2 separate regions of the Homo sapiens genome follow, and region 2 is linked to region 1. Evidence: fine-mapped expression QTL. Tissue or cell type: whole blood. Region 1 holds a variant in brackets; the other region holds the start of a gene. All regions are shown on one strand. Distances are between the middles of the regions.

Region 1 (2,844 bases):
ACATTCACTAGAAACTGTACTTCAAGTACCCATACAACAGTTCTGTTTTTCACTGTTGGTACAGTATTCGATAAATTATCTGAGATATTCAACACTTCATTATGAAATGTAATAGATTTTGTGTTAAATGATTGTGCCCAACGATAAGCTAATGTGAGTGTTCTGAGCATGTTTAAGGCAGGCTAGGCTAAGCTGTGTTTTGTAGTTTAGGTGTATTCAATGCATTTTCTTTTTTCTTTTTTAAGTTCTGGGGTACACATGCAGGATGTGCAGGTTTGTTATGCAGGTAAATGTGTGCCACGGAGGTTTGCTCCTCAGATCATCCATCACCTAGGTATTAACCCAGCATCCATTAGCTGTTCTGCCTGATGCTCTCCCTCCTCCCCCATGACCCTCGGACAGGCCCCATATATGTACCAAATTTTCTTTCTTTTTTTTTTTTTTTTTTTTGAGACGGAGTCTCGCTCTGTCGCCCAGGCTGGAGTGCAGTAGCGCAATCTCGGCTCACTGCAAGCTCCGCCTCCCGGGTTCACGCCATTCTCCTGCGTCAGCCTCCCAAGTAGCTGGGACTACAGGCGCCCGCCACCACGCCCGGCTAATTTTTTTGTATTTTCAGTAGAGACGGGGTTTCACTGTGTTAGCCAGGATGGTCTTGATCTCCTGACCTCGTGATCCGCCCACCTCGGCCTCCCAAAGTGCTGGGACTACAGGCGTGAGGCACCGCGCCCCGCCTGTACCAAATTTTCATGTTTTTGTGTCTTTTTTTGACACAGAGTCTTGTGCCCAGGCTGGAGTGCAGTGGCACAATCTCGGCTCACTGCAACCTCCGTCTCCCAGGTTCAAGCAATTCTTCTGCCTCAGGCTCCCAAGGAGCTGGGACTACAGGCGCCCGCCACCACGCCCGGCTAATTTTTTGTACTTTTAGTAGAGACGGGGGTTCACCGTGTTAGCCAGGATGGTCTCAATCTCCTGACCTTGTGATCCACCCACCTCAGCTTCCCAAAGTGCCAGGATTACAGGTGTGAGCCACCGCGCCCGGCCCAAGATTCAATTTTCTAATAACCCCCACCACATCTTTTCATTTAAAAGAGCTGAAATGGGTTTTGGGTATCTGAACATCAAAACCCAAATGAGAACAACCTCTTACCTTTAACATGTTTGTATTTGCTCATCTCTTGCTGTAAAGAATCCAACGGGAAGGGGCAGAGTTCCTCTACTCGGATGATGGCAAAGTCATGCTTCTTGGCCCCCAGAGATTCTCTTTGTTTCACCAGGGAGTAGAAATGTTTGCCGGAGCAGAACACGAGGGTCTTAACCCTGTTGGACAGAAAAGGAACAATAGGGTGGGGGAGAAATTTTTTAAAGTAAGAATTACGTCAGAAGAGGCCAGGTGCAGTAGCTCACGCCTGTAATCTCAGCACTTTGGGAGGCCAAGGCGGGCGGATCACGAGGTCAGGAAATC[A/G]AGACCATCCTGGCTAACACGGTGAAACCCTGTCTCTACTAAAAATACAAAAAATTAGCCGGGCGTACTGGCGGGCACCTGTAGTCCCAGCTACTCGGGAGGCTAAGGCAGGAGAATGGCGTGAACCCGGGAGGCGGAGCTTGCAGTGAGCCAAGATCGTGCCACTGCACTCCAGCCTGGGCGACAGAGCAAGACTCAACCTCAAAAAAAAAAAAAAAGAGAATTATGTCAGAAGAAACGGGAGACAGTGCAGATTTAAAGTCCTCATGAACAAGGTGGTGGGGGTCTCTGCAGCCGAGTTCAGTCACAGGCTATTCCTGGGGACCCTTCTTCAGCAACATGCGCCTACAAAGTCCACTTTCCCACCCACACTTAACTCATACTCCACTGACTTAAAGGACTTAGGATAGAGGAGGCCAGGCATGGTGGCTCACGCCTGCAATCCCAGCACTTTCAGAGGCTGAGGTGGGTGGATAACCTGAGGTCAGGAGTTCGAGACCAGCCTGGCCAACATGGTGAAACCCCATCTCTACTAAAAATAAAAAAATTAGCAGGGTGTGGTGGCGGGCACCTGTAATCCCAGCTACTTGGGAGGCTGAAGCACAAGAATCACTTGAATCCGGGAGGCGGAGGTTGCATAGAGCTGAGATTGCACCACTGCCCTCCAGCCTGGGCAATAGAGCCAGACTCAGTCTCAAAAATAAATAAATAAATAAATAAATAAATAAATAAATAAATAAAAATAGGAGAGGGGAGATCTGCATCACCTGTGATCTCTTAATGTGAACTACTTTTCCCATTAATTAAAATTCTGCCACAGAATATGAAAACAGAGATACATATCTTACTTTTTTGGATCCACAGATGAATCACCAATGACCGGGTTAAATGTTGTTCCTGGTGCCATTTCTTGAAGAGTTGACACGGCTGCCTACGAGGGAGAAGAGGCCACACATCCAGCAAGCAACAGAAAGAGGTGATGCTGTCACTTACAAGGGCCGCTATCAAACACGAGTACCAAAGTTCTAGCCTAGCACTGCAAGGAGACCCATGTCCTAATAGACGCAATGCCTTGCCAAAAAATATCAGTTCTGTATACTTCAGGGTAAAACTATGTTTCTGAGGTTACATAAGATAGCCTTTTGGAATCTTAACACTTTGGGAGGCCAAGGCAGGAGGATCGCTGGAGGCCAGTTCAAGACCCGCCTGGGCAACATAGCGAGACTCCCTTTGCACCCCCTACTCCACCATCCCCACTGGTGCCTTGCCTCTATTAAAAAAAAAAAAAAAAAAAAAAAAGGTGCCGTGGCTCATGCCTGTAATCCCAGCACTTTGGGAGGCCAAGGTGGGCGGATCACCTGAGGTCAGGAGTTTGAGACCAG
Region 2 (2,500 bases), 49 kb after region 1:
AGTTCTAGTGTGTGATTGATGGAACATTCCAAGGTCAGGTGCCCAGATGCCGAAGGGGATCTTCAACATTAATCTAATGATCAGATCAAAGATGCCAAATGATTTTCCTCTAATAAGCAATCTGTACTTATCTTCTACTCCGTGAGGATAAATAATGATACAATAATTTTGGAGCGTAAACCAAATACTCAAAATTAGTCTCGCAAATGAGCATGCAACAGAAGTTCCAAAAGCTGATATTCATGACTGTTAATTCATTAAAACCACCAGCACATATCAAGGTGTCAATAGAGTGGCTAAAAGGAAAAGAAAGAAACCCCACCAGCACATAGTTCCAAATTCAGCAGAGTTAAGAGTTAAACTCTGAAATTAAAGTAACAGACTAGCTACAAGGAGACAAATACATAATAAATATCATGCTGTCTTCCAAGACTGGAACTAACTGCCCACTTCTCCCAAGCAATGCAGTCTTGGACCCCCCCACCTGCTCACATAAAAGAAGCCTCAGAGATGGTCCTGGAAATGTATCCTTGGGAGACCTTAAAACTTTACTTCTCCCACAGCTCCGCCTCATTAAAGAGCTGGTTTTCTAGGCTGGGTGCAGTGGCTCAGCCTGTAATCCCAACACATTGGGAGGCCGAGGCTGCAGGATCAGCTTGAGCTCAAGAGTTCAAGACCAGCCTGGGCAACATGGTGGGACCCCATCTCTACTAAAAATGAAAAAAAAAAAAAAAAAAAAAAAAAAGCTGGGCGTGGTCATCCCTCTGTGTCCCCAGCTACTCGGGACGCTGAGGTGGAAGGATAGCCTGAGCCCAGGAGTTCGAGGCTGCAGGGAGCTGTGGTCGCAGCACTGCACTCCAGCCTGGGCCACAGAGCGAGACTCCGTCTCAAAAAAAAAAAAAAAAAAAAAAGGAAACAAAAAGAGAAAGAAAAAAAGAGTTTCTCACACGTTTCCAACAAAGGAAAGAAAAGCCCTTCCGAAACCAGGTCCGGACCAGCAAGATGGGAAGACCACCCAAGCGTGGACCTCAAAGATCCTCAGTTACAGAGGATGGACGGGGGATGACCCCAACACTGAGCACCCACACCTACCCTCTGCTCCCCTCACCTCCCCCTCCTCCCCACCGGCCGCGCGTTCAGGCCGGCAGCCGGTTCCCCGACCCCGACACCCCACCGCAAATCGGCCAGGGGAGGCTTCTGCGTCCCAGCCCCCGCTCCCACCGCCCGGGCCCCATCCCCGACCTGGGGGGCGCTCCAGGGCGCCCTGGGGCTCGCGGCTCTCGGGCTTCCTCGGCCGGTAGCCGTAAACGCCCCGCTCGGTCTGGTAGCCACGCCAGAAGAGAGGGAGAGCCCGGCCGAGGCCCCGTCGTGCTGCTGCCGCAGTAGCAGAGGCCATGTTCACCAGATGTCCCGGCCAGCATGCTAAGGCGGGAGCCCGAGGGGATCCCACCGGCCCTGGTAAATCCGGGACTCGTCAGAGGCGGCCGGAGCCCCGCCCCCAGACAACGCCCCCGCGCCTGATTGGCCGACGGGCCGGACCCTGGAAGCCAATCCGTGGCAGCGGCACTCACAGCGAAGCGACGCCCAGGATTGGGGCGGGCTTCCAGGGCGGTTCCGGCGGCTGAGACCGCCCTGCTCCACCGCAGGGCGGGGCAAGTAAGTGTTCCGCGGGGCGGCACCTGCTCCCAGTACGAAACAGGATGTAGCTGCAGCGCCTGTAGTCTCCCGCCAGGAGTGTTTACCCATCACGCCTCTGCCCAACCGCATAGACACAGTCTAGGGTGTCTGTTACAGAAAGGACAAATTAGCCACAGGGTGGATAGGAAATGGCTAGGACTGAGACCAAGGGACGCAAAAAGCAAAGGTTACTTAGCGCAGCTACAAAATCAATACCCCTAATTTTTTTGTTTTCTTAAGAAACATTAACAGAGGCCGGGCGCGGTGGCTCACGCCTGTAATCCTAACACTTTGGGGGGCCACAGCGGGAGGATCATCTGAGGTCAGGAGTTTGAGACCAACCTGTCCAACATGGCGAAAACCCATCTCTACTAAAAATACAAAAATTAGGTCGGGCGCGGTGGTTCACGCCTGTAATCCCAGCACTTTGGGAGGCCGAGGCGGGCGGATCACCTGAGGTCGGGGGTTCGAGACCAGTCTTACCAACGTGGAGAAACCTCGTCTCTACTAAAAATACAAAATTAGCCAGGCGTAGTGGTGGGTGCCTGTGGTCCCAGCTACTCGGGAGGCTGAGACAGGAAAATCGCTGGAACCCGGGAGGTGGAGGTTGCGGTGAGTTGAGATGGCGCCATTGCACTCCAGCCTGGGCAACAAGAGCGAAACTCCGTCTCAAAAAAAACAGAACAAAAACAAACAAACAAACGAACAAAAAAAAAAAAACAAAACAGGCTGCAGTGGCTCATGCCTGTAATCCCAACACTCTGGGAGGCCCTCTGGGAGGCCAAGGAGGGCGGATCACGAAGTCAGGAGTTCGAGACCATCA

What was found. PIP is the estimated chance that this variant, and not a neighbour inherited with it, causes the effect.
Region 2: it holds the start of DHTKD1, and the variant in region 1 is fine-mapped to the expression of DHTKD1 in whole blood (INTERVAL, PIP above 0.99).

Annotation. Positions count from the first base shown.
Region 1 is chr10:12,117,222-12,120,065 of GRCh38, reverse strand. It overlaps DHTKD1 (dehydrogenase E1 and transketolase domain containing 1), which reads right to left. Exons shown (of 17, transcript NM_018706.7): 14 at 2,311-2,393; 15 at 1,148-1,317. Among named protein-coding and RNA genes, the nearest start is that of SEC61A2, 11 kb to the left of the region's middle. The variant A/G (reference allele first, on the strand shown) is at 1,463.
Region 2 is chr10:12,067,930-12,070,429 of GRCh38, reverse strand. It overlaps DHTKD1 (dehydrogenase E1 and transketolase domain containing 1), which reads right to left and starts at 1,476. Exons shown (of 17, transcript NM_018706.7): 1 at 1,243-1,476. The coding sequence starts at 1,396. RefSeq lists silencers at 1,141-1,300, 1,401-1,450.